Regions from separate parts of the Homo sapiens genome. Here region 2 is linked to region 1. The links come from fine-mapping of genetic effects on gene expression. A gene starts in region 1. The other region holds a variant in brackets. All regions are shown on one strand. Distances are between the middles of the regions.

Evidence for each region. PIP is the estimated chance that this variant, and not a neighbour inherited with it, causes the effect.
Region 2: its variant is fine-mapped to the expression of ATP6V0A2 in whole blood (INTERVAL, PIP 0.94).

The regions. Positions count from the first base shown.
Region 1 is chr12:123,708,172-123,716,171 of GRCh38, reverse strand. It overlaps ATP6V0A2 (ATPase H+ transporting V0 subunit a2), which reads right to left and starts at 3,819. Exons shown (of 20, transcript NM_012463.4): 1 at 3,490-3,819. The coding sequence starts at 3,606. TCTN2 (tectonic family member 2) reads right to left here. Exons shown (of 18, transcript NM_024809.5): 18 at 7,773-8,000. LOC105370042 (a long non-coding RNA gene) reads left to right here. Exons shown (of 3, transcript XR_945477.4): 2 at 609-672; 3 at 1,438-3,406. RefSeq lists a silencer at 3,445-3,994.
Region 2 is chr12:123,666,477-123,678,388 of GRCh38, reverse strand. It overlaps TCTN2 (tectonic family member 2), which reads right to left and starts at 7,276. Exons shown (of 18, transcript NM_024809.5): 1 at 7,067-7,276; 2 at 6,775-6,882; 3 at 6,257-6,333; 4 at 4,579-4,774. The coding sequence starts at 7,148. The variant C/G (reference allele first, on the strand shown) is at 5,761.

The DNA of each region.
Region 1 (8,000 bases):
TCACTTGAACCTGGGAGGCAGAGGTTGCAATGAGCTGAGATCGCGCCACTGCACTCCATCCTGGGCGACAGAATTGAGACTCCATCTCAAAAAAAAAAAAGAAAAAAAATTCATCTTTTAGAGGTACTTGTTGAAAAGTTAAATTATATATCTTGGATTTGCTTCAAAATGATCTAGTCTGGGAAGTGAGAAAAAACTAAGTTTACATTTATGGGTACATGGGGGTACACTGTACTCTTCCCTCTACTTATAATATAAAGTTTAAAACAATTTTAAAAAGTTGTAAAAGAATATTTAATAAAATTAGGAAGTTAGTCATGATTTCTGTGTAAAGCAGATTAGGATGTTTTCAGTGTGGTTCAAATTATATAAAAATACATATATATGGACATTTTTAAACATTATTAGAGAAATGCTGATTGTCCAGTATTAGCCAAAAAGTTAAAGTTAATTTCTAGGCGTTGGGATCATGCAAGGTATGTTACTATTCTTATGTTTTCCACATTTCTCACAATGGTCATCTATCACTTTCATACTTCAACAATTTACAGTATATCATTCATGTTGAAAGCCATTTAAGACACGAAATTTATCTTTATTCCATCCAGGATTTGTACTGGGCACTCTCAAGAAACAGTTAAGATACAACTTGACATGAAACTGCTCAACCTGGTAAGTGTCTACTCAGTGTCTGACTCAGTTCTTGTTCATTTTTTGGGGACTTTTTTTTTAAAAGAACCAGAAAAAAGGTAAAAATTCTCATTTCACTTCTGTTTGTCACCTTCTCATTCATTTCTGGAGGTCGAACTAAAAGTAACCACTTCCAAGTTACTAATGATTCAGACACAATCTAGTTCTATGGAACTTGTTGGAAAGGAAGTTCTGTGTCTAAAGCTGTCACAGGATACTACTTCTCAGCTTTCATTTTCTTCCTTCAATATCAAATAGTACTTAACTCTAAATGGGCATGATGTTTCTACAAATAGTAGAATCTTTATTTATAAAGAGGTAAATTTCTGTGGCAATAATACAAACATGGATTTCACATACATACACCACCATCACCAGCTTACATATATTAACTTTTTTTTGAGACGGAGTCTCGCTCTGTTGCCAGGCTGGAGTGCAGTGGCGCGATCTCAGCTCACTGCAACCTCTGCCTCCTGGGTTCAAGTGATTCTCCTGCCTCAGCCTTCTGAGAGTAGCTAGGACTACAGGCACACCCCGCCATGCCCAGCTAATTTTTGTATTTTTAGTAGAGACAGGGTTTCACCATGTTGGCCAGGATGGTCTCGAACTCTTGGCCTTGTGATCTGCCCGCCTTGGCCTCCGAAAGTGCTGGGATTACAGACGTGAACCACCGTGCCCAGACATATTAACTTTTTTTTTCTATTGTGTGGTTTCTTTTATAAATTTTGGGTTTTTTTTCCCTTTTAGGGCAGCACCCTAATTCAAGGCTAATGGAATAAGGTACATTTTAATGTAGATTCAATTCAAGGCACATTTAACCTAGTAAAACCGGCAGAGGAGATCTGGTGCTGTTTGTTTTGATATTCACAGCCATTGATACTCCCACTTCAGCTGAAGGACTAAAGAGGAAACCTGTTCTTAGACTGAGAACTGTAACAAAAGTGCGAACTTTCCCTTCAGGGAGTCCTCCCCATCAGCTGAATGACCTTTCTTTTCCAGGTACTTCCCACTAGCTGTCACCACGGAAGTCACCACCTGCCCCCCTTTCCCTTGCAAGGGTTACTAACAGTGATCCCATCTGGTCACCACAAAGTCAGTAGGAAACTCAGGCTGAAGACACACTGAAAACCTAGCACCACACAAGAGCTCATCGCAGCAACCTTAGTTTTACTTCCTTCTGGAAAAAGATGAACAGCACTTTCTTCTCCTTTCACTGACATTCAGTTGAAAAGGATCCCAGGTACACTCTATGACTGGAGGTAGTGGCGCTTATTGAAACTGGAACCTTCATAGTGATTAGTACGTTTGCTCAAACCTGTAAGACTGAAGTGTGATAAGTGTCTTGGCTTGAGTACTAACCGGAAGGAAAACATCTACCTGTTACAAATGTAGGAGCCTGCTGCACCTGCAGCTGTTGCCTGAATGTTTTGGGTGCTATTCACAGCTCAGCGCAGCATCCATCAGGTGAATGGGTACAACTGCAGAAGTGGCTCCAGGAACCAGGAACCGCCCTGCATCTTACCTGCACCCTCGCCTGTCACTCAGGAGTCTCTCCATGACTTTGCAACTGCCTTATGGGGCTGATCTGGTATTAGATATCTGATATCAATGGATATCAGATCTCGGGTAGGGCTGATCCCTTTTGAAATTAAGGACACCTTAGGAAGATTAAGGGAAACAGTCAGGAGATGAAAGTGGTGGCCAGGAAATAAAATGTTCGCCTGAGTGGATTTCAATTCAGTCAGTAAGTACTTGCTTCACGGTCTCCCTTCCACACCCTGTTCTTTGCCTTCTTAGCACTTATCACAGCTCATAATCAGAGTGTGTTTAATCTGTCTCCTCCCACACTGGAAGCTCCAGGAACACAGGGACTGTGTCTGCCTTGCTCACCACCGAGTCTCCAGCACCAAAAACAGTGCCTGAACATAGCGGGCAGTCAAGAAAAGCTTGTCTGTTCATTCAACAAATGCCTATCGATGCCAATGACTGCCAAGGACTGCGTTAAGGTACTTACTCTCAGAGGTTGACAGTCCTTGGTGGAGACAAACAATAAACAAGTAAATGGACAAACAAATGTTTATTATTACTTGTTGGGGAGACAGCTTCCACTCGACAAACAATGACTGAGTTCTTAAGTCCTTACACACAATGGTATGTACAGCATTAAGCATCAGTGACCAAAACACAAAAATCCCTCTCCTCAAGCAGATGACATCCAGCTCCTTCCCATTTCTGGCTCTGTCTGGGCTCCTCCTGTTCCCTCCAACAAGGACCCTCTCCCCAGATCTTCCCCACGGCTGGCTCCTTTCTATTTGGGTCTCAGCTGAAATATCACCTTCTCCGGGAGGCTTCCTCGACAATCCCTTCACACTCACCTCCCGCCCGAATCACCTTCACATCACCCCGTTTCTTCTTTATGGCAAACCTTTTCTGGTTGACCTATTTATTTGGTTAATGCGCCCCCCTAACCCCCGTAAAGTTCCAAAAGGACTCCAAGAGGCCTTTGTGGGATTTGTTCTCCCGCTGAGCTCGGTGCCCGGAGCTGATGAAGACCACACGGGCGATCCTAACTAACTGGGGCAGAGCAGCCGCCGACCACACAGACGGCCGGCGACCCTGGAGTCAGCCCCGCGCTCCGGGAAGCTTTGGCCGCTGAGCTGGGGTGTCATCTTCCCCGTCTGGACAATGGGGACGGGGCGCGCCCTTCCTCGGTGCTCCCCGCGGGAGGGCCCCAGCGATGCGCGGGATTGGGGGCGCCAGGAGAGCAGGTGCGGCCCGCGTCTCCCGGGCGACACTCACGTCTCGGAACTGGACCAGGCCTTTCTCGCCCAGGGCGCTGAGGCACTCGTAGGCCGTGCCCGACTGCAGGAAGAGCTGCGCCAGGCACATGGTCTCGCTCCGGAACAGGGACCCCATGGCGGGCCGACCCGCGCCCGGAGGGGCTCGATGGGCGGCGGCGGCTCCGAGCCGCGCGGGCCCGCACACTCAGCCGGTGCGGCCCGGGCCTCGAGCTCTTCCTGTGGCCTGGCCGCGGCCCCGCACTATGGGGCTCCAGACTGCAGCGGCCGCCCCCGGTTCTGCCACCGCGGCCGCCGCTCCAGCTGCCGCCACAGCAGTCCGCGAGGTCCCGCCCCCAAGCCACTGCCGGTTCCGGTTCCGCCCCCGCGTCCCGCCCCCCCCGCCGGCCGACCAATGGACGCCCGAGGTTGTCGCCGCACGACGTGGCGGCAGGGCCAACCAGCGCGAACCCGGCGGGTACGACCACTGCAGCTGGCGCTCCGCCGGACTGGACGCAGAGCTAAATCCCGCGCGGCTCCCCGGCTTTCCTGGAGGAGTCTCGCCGAGTGTGCACGCCGCGAAGCTCACCCGTTCCTAGTGCACGACCCTGTGCTGCTGCGTGTGTGTGTGTGTGTGTGTGTGAGAGAGAGAGAGAGAGAAACGGAATCTCACGCAGTCCCACAGGCTGGAGTGCAGTAGCGCGATCTCGGCTCACTGCAACCTCCGTCTCCCAGGTTCAAGCGATTCTCCAGCCTCAGACTCCCCAGTTGCTGTGACTACAGACGCGCGCCACCCGCGTCCAGCTAATTTTTTTGTATTTTTAATAGAGACGGGGTTTCACCATGTTGGCCAGGCTGGTCTCAAAACTCCAGAGCTCAGGTGATCCGCCTGCCTCGGCCTCCGCAGTGCTGGGATTACAGGCGTGAACCACTGCGCCCGGCCCTGCTGCTGGTTTTTTATGGATAGGGTTTCCCTCTGTGGCCCAGGGAGGAGTGCAGTAGCACGAGCTCGGCTCGCTGCAACCTTGACCTCCTGAGCTCAAGCGATCCTCCCACCTCAGCCTCTGGAGGAGCTGGGATTACAGACGCGCGCCATCACACCCGGCTAATTTGTTTTTAAAATGTTTATAGAGAAGGGGTTTCATCATGTTGGCCAGGCTGGTCTCGAACTCCTGAACTCAAGCAATCCTCCCGCCTTGGCCTCCCAAAGCGCTAGGATTACAGGCGTGATCCGCCGCCCGGAGGGATCCTAGGCTTCTTCGTGAAGTTGGAGTGTGCAGCCAGCATCCCAATCCAGTTTTCAAACATTTCCCACCGACCTCGCAAGACTCCTCCTGCTCAGTTGCAGTCTCCCCTTCCCGCCCGGCCTGGCCACCACAGGACAATTTTGTCTCGCTAAATTTGCCACCTCCAGGCTTGTCCTGTCGATGGAATCACACAGCACCCAGTGTGTGTTCCCCACACTGACCGGGAAGCAGTGGCCCCCCGCCCCAGGCCGCAACCTCACCGCTGTCCCAGTCGAGTCTCTGCTTACATATCCCCTTCCTTGAGACTGTCCCTGGAGTCACATCCTTGTTCTATTTCCTTCACTGCACCTGCCACCATCTGAAATTATCTTGTCTGTGTGTTAGTGCCAGTCTTCCCTGCTAGAATGGAAGCTCCACCAAGGTGGGGACATTGTTTCTGCCACTGTGGTATCTCCAAGCCCCAGCACATAGTAGCCACTCAATAAATAGTTCATGAATGCATACATAAATGTATAAACTTAAAAAAGTTAAAACCATAGACACTCCAGACCCCATTCTGCCAAACTGAGTTTTTTCCTTCTTTTAAGTACAAAAGGCGTCCTCACAAAGCCCACAAAATCAAGCTAAATTACCTGTCATTTGGAAGTTTTAAATTTATTTTCCATAAATACCTGAAATCCAAAGCTAGTTACACTAGGCTGGGTGCCCTGGCTCACTCCTGTAATCCCTGCACTTTGGGAGGCTGAGGCAGGTGGATCACTTGAGGTCAGGAGTTTGAGACCAGCCTGGCCAACATGGCAAAACCCCGTCTCTACTAAAAAAATATAAAAATTAGCTAGGCGTGGTGGTGGGCACCTGTAGTCCCAGCTACTCGGGAGGCTGAGGCAAGAGAATCGCTTGAACCTGGGAGGTGGAGCTTGCAGTGAGCTGAAATGGCATCCCTGGACTCTAGCCTGGGCAACAGAGTGACACTCTGTTTCAAAAGAAACAACAACAACAAAAAGATACAGTAAGAACTGTGAAGGTGAATTCAAAGGCTGAAGTTCAGACAATAATTGACTCAGACCCCAGCTCCGTCAGTCCAGTACTGACCCAGATTCCTGAGTCAGCCCTAGAGGGGTCGGGTGAAGGCCCAACACCACCACAGTACAGATGCTGAAATTCACGGTATTTCCATCATGCAGAAACTTAGGACCTCTGCAGTGACTAGCTCATCCCCCTATTTGAAAGTGGACTCAGGCCGGGCGCAGTGGCTCATGCCTGTAATCCCAGCACTTTGGGAGGCCGAGGCGGGTGGATCACGAGGTCAGGAGATCGAGACCATCCTGGCTAACACAGTGAAACTCCGTCTCTACTAAAAATACGAAAAATTAGCTGGGCATGGTGGTGGGTGCCTGTAGTCCCAGCTACTCAGGAGGCTGAGGCAGGAGAATGGCGTGAACTCGGGAGGCGGAGCTTGCAGTGAGCAAAGATCACGCCACTGCTCTCCAGCCTGGGCAATAGAGCAAGACTCCGTCTCAAAAAAAAAAAGAAAAAAGAAAATGGACTTAAGACTGGAGGAAAATTTGAAATTGCCCCTGGGCAGGAACTCTGCAGCGAAGATGAAACAGCACATTTTATGTGGTGCTGGGTATCAGCAGGCACTAGGAATTCGATCAAAAAGTATAAAAGGGAAAATAATTATTTTTCAAAATTAGGCTTAAATAACATAGAAAATCCATCTGAAACAACTAAGTTACCTGGCACACAAAGAAAACTTACAGGTGATGTGCCATGTGGCCACTGTAGGACCGTGGCTAAAAACATCTATTCCAGGGCTGGGCACAGCAGCTCATACCTATAATCCCAGCACTTTGGGAGGCTAAGGCAGGTAGATCACTTGAGCCTAAGAGTTCGAGACCAGCCTGGGTAACATAGGGAGACCCCCTTCTCTACAAAAAAAAAAAATACAAAAACTAGCCAGGTACAAGCCTGTGGTCCCAGCTACTTGGGAGGCTAAGGTGGGAGGATCACTTGAGCTCAGGAGGTCGAGGCTGCAGTGAGCCGTAATTGTGCCACTGCTCTCCAGCTCTCCAGCCTGGGTAACAGAGTAAGACCGAGTCTCAAAAAAAAAAAAAAAAAAAAAATCCATTCTCCCCACTGAGTGGGGTTGACTGTTCCCATGTGACGGCCCATGGGAGAAATTTGTCAAGACTCAGCTAGGAAAAACTGTCCTTCATTGATAACCAGTTAATTTTTAATGAATAGATTTCATAATTCCTGTATTAATGAATAGATTTCATAATTCCTATAGCTAATCATACTTGGGTTTTTGTAAACTGGGGTCTTGGTTGGGCATAGTGGCTCCTGCTGGTAATCCCAGCACTTTGGGAGGCTTAGGTGGTAGGATCGCTAAAGCCAGGAGTTTGAGACCAGGCTGGGCAACATAGCGAGACCCCCATCTACTAAAAAAAAAAAAAAAAAAAAAAAAAAAAAAAATAGCCAGGCGTGGTAGCTGTGTGCCACCTGTAGTCCCAGCTACTTGGGGGAGAATCGCTTGATCCCAGGTGTCTGAGTTTACAGTGAGCTATAATCGTGCCACTGCACTCCAGCCTGGGCAACAGAGGGAGAACCTGTCTCCAAAAAACAAATAAATAAATAATGAATTAGGGGCCTGCTTCTGCTAAAGGCAACCTCTGGCATGTATTTTAGGGCTTACATGTGCCCCTGGTTTTGTTTTACTTTTCTCTTATTATTTTCCTCCCGCAGCCCCCATATCTTTCCCCATCAGTGATTTTGTGTTTTTGTATTACATGCATTTTTAAGGATTTCTTAATCCTTTCTACGGAATATGGGAAACATCAATCAACACGAATGTATTAAAAACTAAAGAAAAGACTGATTCTCTCTGGTATAAATAAAACTCCTATGACTTTAACTAATTTGTGATAAGCTAAAATTTCTAACATTTTTGAGTTCTTCTCATGCATTTTACTCAGTTCAGGCCAGCGATGAGAATATTCATTCTGCATTGGATAGCTACATATATGAATTAAAGTCACAGGGCACTTAATAAAAATTTTCTACAAAAATAAGACATTTCATTTATTAAAATTTTATAGAGAAGCATACAAGACTACAACAAATCACTGAAGTCAAGGTCTAAAGTCTTTGAGAAGTCAGATGGACCGGACGCAGTGGCTCACGTCTGTGATCCCAGCACTTTGGGAGGCCGAGGTGGGCAGATCATCTGAGCTCAGGAGTTACAGACCACCCTGGGCAACAAGGCGAAACCCCGTCTTTACCA
Region 2 (11,912 bases), 40 kb after region 1:
CCAAAATAATATCATTGCAACAGGCAATCAATGTAAAAATTATGAATGAGCTATTCCACATTCTTTGTTTCACATTAAGTCCTCAAAAACTGGTGGCTGTTTAACAGTTACAGCACATCTCAATTAAGACCCATCCCCTTTCAACTGTCCAGTGTCCAGACATGGTTCGTGGCTGTGGTACCCAACAGTGCAGGTGGGACAAATGTGGTCTGACCACGAGAGTATGGGGGGCTGGGTTATGCAGGGATGATACAGTGAGACACAACAGCTTCCCTGAGGGGCTCGCACTCTCAGAGGGAGGAGACAGGTAAAGAGATCATGTGACCATAAAGGGTAAACACTGAAATGGATCTGCCATGGGAACCCAGGGAGGGCACGTGGCTTAGGCTGGGCGTCAGGAAGACTTGCAGAGAGAGAGAATGCGCTGAGCCTGAAACACACGTAAGAGTTTGTACAGGTAGCCAGGCACAGTGGCTCAGGCCCGTAATCCCAGCACTTTGGGAGGCCAAGGCGGGGGAATCACCTGAGGTCAGGAGTTCGAGACCAGCCTGACCAACATGGAGAAACCCCATCTATACTTTAAAAAAAAAGAAAGAGTTTGTACAGGTAAGAGGGGCTACTGGAGAGCTGTAGGTGGAAGACAGAGGGGGTGGATGAATAGGGGGAACACTGTGGTGCAGGGGAGAAGGTGGCGGGCGTGAATGGGACAAGGCCAGAGAAAGCAGCTCAGGAGAAATGCTAAAAAGGTAAACATTGGCAGGGCCCGTTGTTTATAACTCTTCAGGATATTACAGGTTTCCGAACTTGTTTTCCTCTTTGAAGAGGAATATGTTACACGACATTTCAGCCTCCTAACTCAGAATCCAGTGACAGTAATGCTTTGGATTTCTCTCCAATCATTTATCAGATAAAAGTTTCATTCTGCTGAATTTTACTTTTGCATTTGGTACACGTTAGAAAACCATGCAGGAACTATTTGTTTAAACCCCACATAACAGTTAACTGTAATGACACAATAGCTGAAGTATCTAAAGAACAACTAACGATCTGTTCTATCCTGTAACATAGCAGAAGGTCAATGATACATCAATGGTATCCGGAACAAGGAGAAGGTCCACATCGCAGACCACGTTACACGGGTAAGGGTCTGACCCTCAGTGTTATCAAACCCATGTGACACAAGCAAGGCACTTTATTGATTTTTTTTTGAGACAGGGTCTCACTCTGCTGCCCAGGCTGAAGTGTGAAATGGCACAATCACAGCTCACTGCAGCCTCAACCTCCCAGGGCTCAAGTGATCCTCCCACCTCAGCCTCTCAAGTAGCTGGGACCACAGGTGTGCACCATCATGCTCAGGTAACGTTCATATTTTCTGTAAAGACAGGGTCTCACTATGTTGTCCATGCTGGTCTCAAACTCCTGGGCTCGAGTGATCCTCCCATCTTGGCCTCCCAAAGTGCTGGAATTACAGGCATAGTACATGAGCCACCACCCCCAGCCACGAGACACTTCAGAATAGGGTTTTACTATGTGTTATACAAATAGATGTTTGTGTGTTGATTTATGTTTTCTACATTGTTCGCTGGCTTCATTGTTACTGGGTATGACACATACCTCCTGTCTGTGCTTCCATTCTTTTTCTAGTTTTAATCGCTGGCTGGCTGAGTAAAAAATTTTTCATGCCTTCATGGGGTCAGAGCTGACAACTCAATCACTCATATACAAAGATGTTCAATTTTCTAAGTTTGGTATTCTAAAATATTAAATATTACCTAAATATACTGAAGCATATTTTCCTTTTTTTTTTTTTTTTTTTTTTTTTAGATGGAGTCTCGCTCTGTCACCCAGGCTGGAGTGCAGTGGTGTGACCTTGGCTCACTGCAAGCTCCACCTCCCGAGTTCACGCCATTCTCCTGCCTCAGCCTCTCGAGTAGCTGGGACTCCAGGCACCCGCCACCATACCCGGCTAATTTTTTGTATTTTTAGTAGAGACGGGGTTTCACCGTGTTAGCCAGAATGGTCTCGATCTCCTGACCTCGTGATCCGCCCACCTCAGCCTCCCAAAGTGCTGGGATTACAGGCGTGAGCCACCGCGCCCGGTCTTTTTTTAGAGACAAGGTCTTGCTCTGTCGACCAGGCTGGAGTACATGGAGCAATCCTGGCTCACTGCAGCCTCCACCTCCTGGGCTCAAGCGATCCCCCGACCTCAGCCTCCCTCATAGCTGGGGCTACAGGCACCGACTACCACGCACAGCTAATTGTAGTATTTGTTTGTAGAGACAGGGTTTTGCCATGTTGCCCAGGCTGGTCTTGAACTCCTAGGCTCAAGTGGCCCACTCACCTCAGCCTCTAAAAGTGTTGGGATTACAGGCATGAGCCACCACCTGGCCTCAAGCATATTTCTCAAAGGAAAAAAGTCAGTGCTTTGAATGGTACAGCTATCATGAATCCCTTCTGTTGTTTTGGGGGGATTTTTTTTTTCATCATTGAATACGGTTTTTTTGGCTTTGTTTTGAATTTTAAGCCATAGAAAAATTTAAAACTTTTAAGTGGGTAACACATTTGCATGGTTCCAAAAAATCAAAAGCATATTAAAAAATTCCTCACTGTCAGCCCTTTCCTGTTCCCACATCATCCTCCAACTTGGTAGCACATTATTAGCTTCTCCAACATCCTTCCAGAATTTCTTTATGCAAATGTTTTCATTTCTGCCTCCTTTATGCAAAAGATAGCACACTGTAGGCAGCCATCTGCACTTGCTTTTTTCACTTCATTCATCATGGAGGCCTTTCCATGCAAGTACACTGAGGGCACAGTAGTCTGCTGAAAGGAGCTGTCAAAACTTGTCTTATCATCCTAAACTTCCAGAAGCACCAGGAGGACCACAGTTAGGGATGTAATAAGGGAAGCGGCAGTAAAGGAGTCTCCAGGTAACAGACTTTTGCTACTAAAGTCTGGAACGCTTCTCCCTCCATGCCACGTGGCCATAAAGGCAAGAGATGTCAGAGTTCGCCACCGGAGACAGGGGACATGGCAGTAGCACTCATCACTGCAGAGCCCTCTACATCGGCACATCTAGTTGAAAGCTCTTTTGGTTTAAGAACACTAACATCATGTGAGACGGAGATGAACACAAAACCATTTTCTCATGTCCAAAGATTCATGTACACGGGCATAACGATCTTTGCTGTAGCATCAAAAGCTGGGAACAGACCAGGTGCAGTGGCTCCTGCCTGTAATCCCAGTACTTCAGGAAGCCATGGTGGGAGGATCACCTGGGCCCAGGAGTTCAAAACCAGCCTGGCTAACATAGTGAGACCCTGTCTCTACAAAAAATGTAAAAACTAGCCAGGTGTGGTGGTGCACGCCAGTAGCCCCAGCTACTATGGAGGCTGTGGCAGGAGGATCGCCTGAACCAGGAAGGTTGAGGCTGCAGCAAGCCAGGATCGTGCCCCTGCACTCTAGCTCCAGCCTGGGTAACAGAGTGAGACCGTGTCTCTAAAAAAAATGAAAATAAAAATAAATTTTAAAAAAAGCTGGAAATGATGTAAACTTCATCAGCCTCAAACTCCTACGCTCAAGCGATCCTCCCACCTCAGCCTCCCTAGTAGCTAGGGCTACAGGCAGGCACCATCATGCCCAGCTTTTTAAAATTTTTTATAGAGACAGTATCTGCTGTGTTGCCCAGGTTGGTCTCGAACTCCTGGGCTCAAGAAATTCCCCCGCCTTGGCCTCCCAAAGCACTTACAGTGTGGGAGCCACTGCGTCTGGCCACCCTTCCTTTTTTCTTCTTAAGATGCAGTCATGACAATCAATGCACGTGCCGAGCACAGTGGCTCACGCCTGTAATCCCAGCACTTTGGGAGGCCGAGGCAGGCGGATCACAAGGTCAGGAGATCAAGACCATCCCAGCCAACATGGTGAAACCCCATCTCTACTAAAAGTACAAAATTAGCTGGGCGTGGTAGCGTGAGCCTGTAGTCCCAGCTACTCGGGAGGCTGAGGCAGGAGAATCGCTTAAGCCCAGGAAGTGGAGGTTGCAGTGAGCCGAGATCACAACACTGCACTCCAGCCTGGTGACAGACTTAGACTCCATCTCAAAAAAAAAAGAGAGAGAATCAATGTACATAAACAAATTTCACCTTCTCCCAAAAAGGATTCAAGGTAGCTTATAAAGATGCAAACAGTAGAGAAAGATCAAATAAATGTTAAATAAAATAGTACAAAATGAAATTTCTTAAAAGAAAACTAAACAAAAGAAAAATAAGTTTAGAAAAGCAAGACAGACTCAAGTGAAGTATACTTTACAAATTGCATGGCATACACTTATAATCAAACAGGTAAGCTTGACACAAATTTTTCTTTTTTTGTTTTTGTTTTTGGTTTTTTTTGAGACAGGGTCCCACTCTGTCACCCTGGCTGGAACGCAGTGGCGCGATCACAGCTCATTTGTAGCATTAACCTCCCGGGCAGCTCATTTATAGCATCAACCTCCCGGGCTCAAGCAATCCTCCTACCTCTTCCTCCTAAGTAGCTGGGAACAACATGAAAGTTTTGACAGTCAAAGACTTCACTTGCCTGAGGCATTATGGGTCAGAGAAGAGTTGGCATAAATTTCCACTTGAATGAGTAGATGTGCTGAACAGGATGAATTATGAGATGCTGAAACCAGAAGGGTCTGGAGGATACAGGGGGACTCTGAGAAGGAATCTGTCTCATTGGAGGAACACCAGTCCAGACCTCTCTTCCACCTCACTGTCACTTCCAACACCTTCTGAAAGGAAAACATTGCTGTATTTTTAAAGTGACTCAAAACAGGGTCTATAAGAATACATAATGGAAAACACAATAAAAGTACACATCAGCCTCCGTTCATTTTATAAAAGGGAAATGTATACAGAGATGACACAGTTATCTTCAGTTCCCCCCCATAAACCTATGGTAACATGCAAGCCCTGATTCTTCTTCCTTAACATAAAAGCAAACAACTTCGGGATACTTAGAGAAAGCTAAACACAGATCTGATAAATAAACTCAGTTTATTGTACACCTTTTTAGTTTCTTTATCATCCTATCAGTGGAAGAGTAAATACACAAAAAAAGTCAATGAAAACAATCCTCAGTTTATCCCAGAATGACTTTAGACATGTACATGTTCACTCCTGGGGTACAAGCAGAGCTTGTCTTTCCTGTCCTTTTCTCTCCAGAATTGATGTTGCATATACTAGGTATCCAATAAACACTTATTAAATAGAAGATGCTTAATCTCTCCAGGTTTGAGTATCCTTACACATAAGCTCAGAGTTGGGCAAGATCAGTGGTTATGAAGCTTTTTTTTTTGAGACGGAGTCTCGCTCATCACCCAAGCTGGAGTGCAGTGGCGTGATCTCGGCTCACTGCAATCTCTGCCTCCCGGGTTCAAGTGATTCTCCTGCCTCAGCCTCCAAAGTAGCTGAGATTACAGGCACCCGCCATCACGCCCAGCTAATTTTTGTATTTTTAGTAGAGATGGGTTTCACCATGTTGGCCAGACTGGTCTTGAACTCCTGACCTCAGATGATCCGCCCTCCTCGGCCTCCCAAAGTGCTAGGATTACAGGCGTGAGCCACCGCGCCTGACCAGCTTTTTCTTTTTTTTTAAGAGACAGGGTCTTGCTCTGTTGCCCAGGCTGGATGAAGTGCAGTGGTGCGATCATAGCTCTCTGCAGCCCTGAACTCCTGGGCTCAAATAATCCTCTTGCCTCAGCTACCCCACCCCCCT[C/G]CAAGTATCTGGGACTGTAGGTGTACGCCACCCACCTAATTTTTTTTTTAATTGTTTTGTAGAGACGAGGTCTCGCTATGTTACAGGCTGGTCTGGAACTCCTGGGCTCAAGCAATCCTCCCGCCTCAATCTCCCAAAGCGCTATGAGTACAGGCGTGAGCCACGATGCCTGGCATAAAGCTTTTTTGAATCACTGACCCATTTGATGATCTAAAGGAAACTGGTGACCCTCTCATCAGAAAAATGCACATACACACAGAACTTTACATACAATTTCATAGAGTTCACAGACCCACTGAAATACATCCAAGGACTCCTAACCCCAGGGTAAGGAACCCGTGGGCTGGATAAGTGTCTACCAGATCCAACAGCCCACAATTTCATGATTGTTGAGAGCATGGAGAAAGCCATGCCTTGTTAAATAAAGAGAGCACTGCAGAAACCCTAGCTGGGGGCCTCTTCACAGGCTACAGAGAAGGTTTACTTCTGGCCTTACCGCACCGGGGATCACAGTCACGCTCCAGTCTTCCGTCTCATTGTTCAGCACTCCACACGTCGGAATTGGCAATATTCCTAAAGAAAGAAGACCAGCATGCAAAGGCAGCAAGGTCCAGCAGCTCAGGGGGTGCATTGAGTCAGACTGCCTAGGATGGACTCACATTACAGCCTAAGATTGGGCCCTTTACAAGCTGCTTGACACTGGGACAGTGACAACCTCTCTGAACTTGTTTCTTCCTTGGTCAAAGGGGATGAAAAGATATTACTGTTCTTACTAGGAAAATGGGATGATGCACGATGTTAGCTCAATGAATGCTAACCATTATTATTTCAGGCTTTCTTCGAACCTGTCCGTCTGTCCTCTTTGGCCTACAGCAGCCGCCCGATCCTTTTCTCCCCATGCGACTTTGCAGAGAACAGAGGCAGGGGGCCCCAAGGATGCCACCTCTCCAGGCTCCTTGGGAGGTCTGGATCCAGTCCAACCCCCACCCTCCCCAAAAGAGGGCCGGACTTTACCCGCCTCGTCCTGCAGCACTGCCAGGGACACGGTCACACCCTCGGTGTCTCCGACCAGGGACGCGCTGACCGCAGGGCCGGACATTCGGATAAAAGGAGGGATGAAAGCTAGGCGGGAAGGAAAGGGGACAAGGAGGGGTTAGCAGTGGAAGAATCACCGCCTAAGGTGTGTGTGGCGGCTTGCTTTGGCGTTGTCGACTCCCGAAGCTCCCGGGGGAGTCCAAGTCTGGCCCTTTTAACGCCCAGTCCCCTCAGCCCCGGCCCACCGAGGTCACTGCCGCGCCGTACACACCCAGGTCCCCCCACAGAAGCCTCAGGATGCCCTGCAGAAGGAAAAGCCTCAAAAGAAGAGCGGCCGGAGGCTGGAAGCCCATGCCTTAGACCTCGCGGGCCGGGCACAGCAGAACCGCGCCCTCATTAGAACCCAGGAAGGACTCAGACACGAAAACGCAGCAGCCACTGCCCCGCCGCCGCCATCTTGCAAGCGAACGCCCGGAGCTATGGCAACCACCAATCGGCGGCCGGCCAGGAGGAACGCCGCGCTGTGATTGGACCAGTGGCAAGAGCGGGCACCCCGGCCCCGCCCACAAGGCCTAGCATTTTTGCTGCTTGACTCTGGTGGGGAGAGTGAGGGCTGAAAAACTACCTATCCGGTGCTCCACTTAGTACCTGGGTGACGAAACAATCTGTGCACCCAACCCCCGTGACACGCAATTTACCTATATAGCAACCTGTACATGGACCCCTGGGCCTAAAAGTTGAAAACATCAAAATTAAAAAGGTCCTGAAAAGCAGGAGTGCGTGTCCGGCTCAAAAACTGGAGTTTTCCCCTACCCTGGAATTAATCCAACAATAGCCAAGAGCGATCCTATAGACACTGGCTTCTAAATAAAAAGGGTGGGACTTGCTCCTTAATAAACTTGATTTTTATACGGATTTGTTTTAGGGGTGAGTAGAAAAAGGGGATGGGGCTGCCGCGCTGTGTTTATTATCTTTACTATCGTTTATGATGTATTATTTATATTTTATATTTTTATAAAATAAATATATATTTACAAAATAGATATACTTTGTTTTATATATATATATCAGATATACATACTTGATATATATAAAATACATATAGGCCGGGTCTGGCGGCTCATGCCTGTAATCCCAGCAATTTGGGAGGCCGAGGCGGGCGGATCACAATGTCAGGAGTCTGAGACCAGCCTGATCAACATGGTGAAACCCCGTCTCTACTAAAAATACAAAAAATTAGCCAGGCGTGGTGGCAGGCGCCTATTATCCCAGCTACTCAGGAGGCTGAGGCAGGAGAATTGTATGAATCTGGGAGGCGGAGGTTGCAGTGAGCCGCGATTGCACCACTGCACTCAAACCTGGGCGACAGAGCCAGACTCCGTCTCAAAAATATATTTATTTATTTATTTATCTTATAAAATATATATGTATTTATATTTTATCTTATATATATTTATCTTTTATATAAGTATATATTTTGTAAATTTTATACTTATATGTTATAATTTTATAAAATTTATATTTTTATAATTCTTATCATTATCATTTATTATCACTATTGCTTTTATTATCATTCTCCTAGGTTTTTGAAGGATTTTCTCCCCTGCACAGAGCTCTCAGCACTCTGAAAGCAGATCCAATCACAGAACACACAAGAGGTTTTGCCCAGCAATAGGACAGATGTGAAAGAATCAAAATTCTGTCTGGAAAAAAATTGTTTTTTCTTATATCAGTAGCCTCAGAACATTTCAAATATTGTCACGGCTTGGGGACTGAGAGTGCAGGGTCTGAGGTCAGGCTGCCTGGCATGGGATTTCGCCTTCCCTCCACAGATATTCTCAGCTGTTAAGTGACTTTGGGCAAGTCAACCTCTCTAAGTTTCAGCTTCCTCATCTATAAAAAAGGGATGATAATAATCCTTCCTTGGGGATTGTGTGAGGATGAAATGAGGTAACATATCTAATGAGGTTAAACCAATGGCTGGCATACAGTAAGCACTCAGTTAATGATCAGTTACTTGTTAACTATCAGAGAGGTGGTGTATCCTTTAGCTGAGACAATCATGGTGTTCAGCATTGTGGCTGACTGACGGTAAATGCCAAGTAAATGTTTGCCATTATTAGTCTTTTTTTTTTTTCTTTTTGAGACAGGGTCTCACTCTGTCACCCAGGCTGGAATGGTGCAGTGGCACAATCATAGCTCACTGCATCCTCAAACTTCTGGGCTCAGCTGATCCTCCCACCTCAGCCTCCCAAGTAACTGGCAATACACCACCACACCCGGCTAATTTTTGTATTTTTTATAGAGACGGGGTTTCACCATGTGGCCCAGGCTGGTCTCAAACTCCTGGGCTCAAGTGATCCTCCTGCCTTGGCCTCTAAAAGTGCTGGGATTACAGGTATGGGCCACCGTACCCAGCCCCATTATTACTCTTAATGTTCAGTTATATATTCATTGATCAGCAAATCTAACATTGTGAAAGGATTCTGAAAGTTGAGGCTTTATAAGGGCCTGACACTGGGTGTTATCTTTTTCTTATACTCCCTGAAAAACTGTGGGTCACTACAGTTGTAACATGAGCATGAAACTTTTCCCGTGTACCTCAGCTCCTCTCTGGAAGACTGCAAAATGTTTACCTCTCTTGATATCTTGGAATGAAGCCTAGGAGAACGTTACTAAGAGGAAGCTGTCAAACACTTAAATATTTCTGTTATTCCCCATCTGTCTTTGGGGGGAATTAATCTGCAAATTAAGTTGGCAAGGCCAAGCGGTAAAGATTAAGAGATAAATCCTCCCAAAAGAAAACATTTCTGGGCCGGGCTTGGTGGCTTATGCCTGTAATCCCTGCACTTTGGGTGGCAAAGGCACATGGATCACTTGAGGCCAGGAGTTCAAGACCAACCTGGGCAACACAGAGAAACCCATCTCTACCCAAAAATACAAAAATTATCTGGGCGTGGTGGCGCATGCCCGTACTCCCAGCTACTCGGGAGGCTGAGGCAGGAGAATCGCTTGAACCCAGGGGTCGGATGTTGCAGTGAGCCGAGATCGCGCTACTGCACTCCAGCCTGGGCAACAGAGTGAGACTTCATCTCAAAAAAAAAGATAGAAAACACTTGAAGCTGGTGATCAGCAGCTTCCCGATAAGATCTCAGGAGTTGGGCAAGCAGGCTCATGCATACATAGTAAGAGGCAAGATGGCAGATTTTAACTGGTATATAACCTTCCTCTGGGAAGGCTCGACTGGTAAAGGAAAATGCCTCAAATGAGCATGCGCACAACTTCAGTAAACACACTGCACATGCGGCCCCTCCCAAGTGCTGGCAGGCCACTGACATGCAGACAGCCCACCCCAAGGAAAAATCAAGGGAGGGCACAAACCTCAGAACCATGCTAATGTATAGAAACCCCCAGTGAAGGGTCGGACGGGGCACTTGAATCTCTCAAGTCGCCCGCTTGGCCCTCTTCCAAGTGTACTTTACTTCCTTTCATTCCTGCTCTAAAACTTTTTAATAAACGTTTACCCCTGCTTTAAACTTTGCCTTGGTCTCTCACTCTGCCTTATGCTGCTTGGCCAAATTCTTTCCTCTGAGGAGGCAAGAATCGAGTTGCTGCAGACCTGTACAGACTCGTCACTGCTAACGGTGATCCAGGGAATTCTCCAAGATCGTACCCAAGATCACCAAGGTGGCACCTCTACAAATATGTAAACTATTCATATCTTGAGTAGTAGACTAAAAGGCAAACCTATCAAAAATAATAACTACAGCTTTTTAAGACATAGTATAATAAGATATAAATATTGTAGAAACAAAAAGTTAAAAATCAGAGGGATGAAGTTAGAGTATTAGTTTTCTCTGCTTGTTTTTGCAATCAGAGTTGTCATCAGTTTAAAATAATGGGTTATAAGATGGTATTTGCAAGCCTCATGCTAAACTCATATCAAAAAGCCTACAACAGATACACAAAAATATAAAGCAAGAAATTAAAACATACCACCAGAGAAAATCACTTTCATAAAAAGGAAGATGGAAGGAAGGGAGGAAGGGAAGATCAGAAAACAAATTTAAAAATGGCAGTAGTAAGTCCTTACTTATAAATAATAACATTGAATGTAAATGGACTAAACTCTCCAATCAAAAGACATAGAGTGGCTGAATAGATTTAAAAAAAAAAGACCTAATGATTAGCTGCCTATAAAAACTCTTCACCTATAAAGACACACATAGACTAAAAATAAAGGGATGGAAAAAGATATTCTAATGGAAACCAAAAAAGAGCAAAAGTAGCTATATACTTATATCAGATAAAATAGATTTTAAGACTAGGTGTGATGGCTCATGCCTGTAATCCCAACACTTTGGGAGGCCGAGGCAAGAGGAACCCAGGAGTTGCTTGAGCCCAGGAGTTCAAGACCAGCCTGGACAATACAGCAAGATGCTATCTCCACAGAAAAAGAAAAAAAAGAGGCCAGGCGCAGTGGCTCACACCTGCAATCCGAGCACTTCGGGAGGCCAAGGTGAGTGGATCATCTGAGGTCAGGAGTTCAAGACAAGCCTAGCCAACATGGCGAAAACCCATCTCTATTAAAAATACAAATATTAGGCTGGGCTCGGTGGCTCATGCCTGTAATCCCAGCACTTTGGGAGGCCGAGGTGGGAGGATCACGAGGTCAGGAAACTGAGACCATCCTGGCTAACATGGTGAAACCTCATCTTTACTAAAAATACAAAAAAATTAGCTGGGCATGGTGGCAGGTGCCTGTAGTCCCAGCTACTTGGGAGGCTGAGGCAGGAGAATGGCGTGAACCCGGGAGGCAGAGCTTGCAGTGAGCTGAGAACACACCACTGCACTCCAGCCTGGGCGACAGAGCGAGACTCTGCCTAAAAAAAAAAAAAAAAAAAAATTAGCTGGTCGTGGTGGCAGGTGCCTGTAATTGCAGCTACTCGGGAGACTGAGGTGGGAGAATCACTTGAACCCGGGAGGTGGAGGTTGCAATGAGCTGAGATCATGCCACTGCACTCCATCCTGGGTGACAGAGTGAGACTCTGTCTCAAAAAAAAAAAAAAAAAGTGGTAAAGAAGGTCATTATATAATAAGAGGCTCAGCAAGAGAAT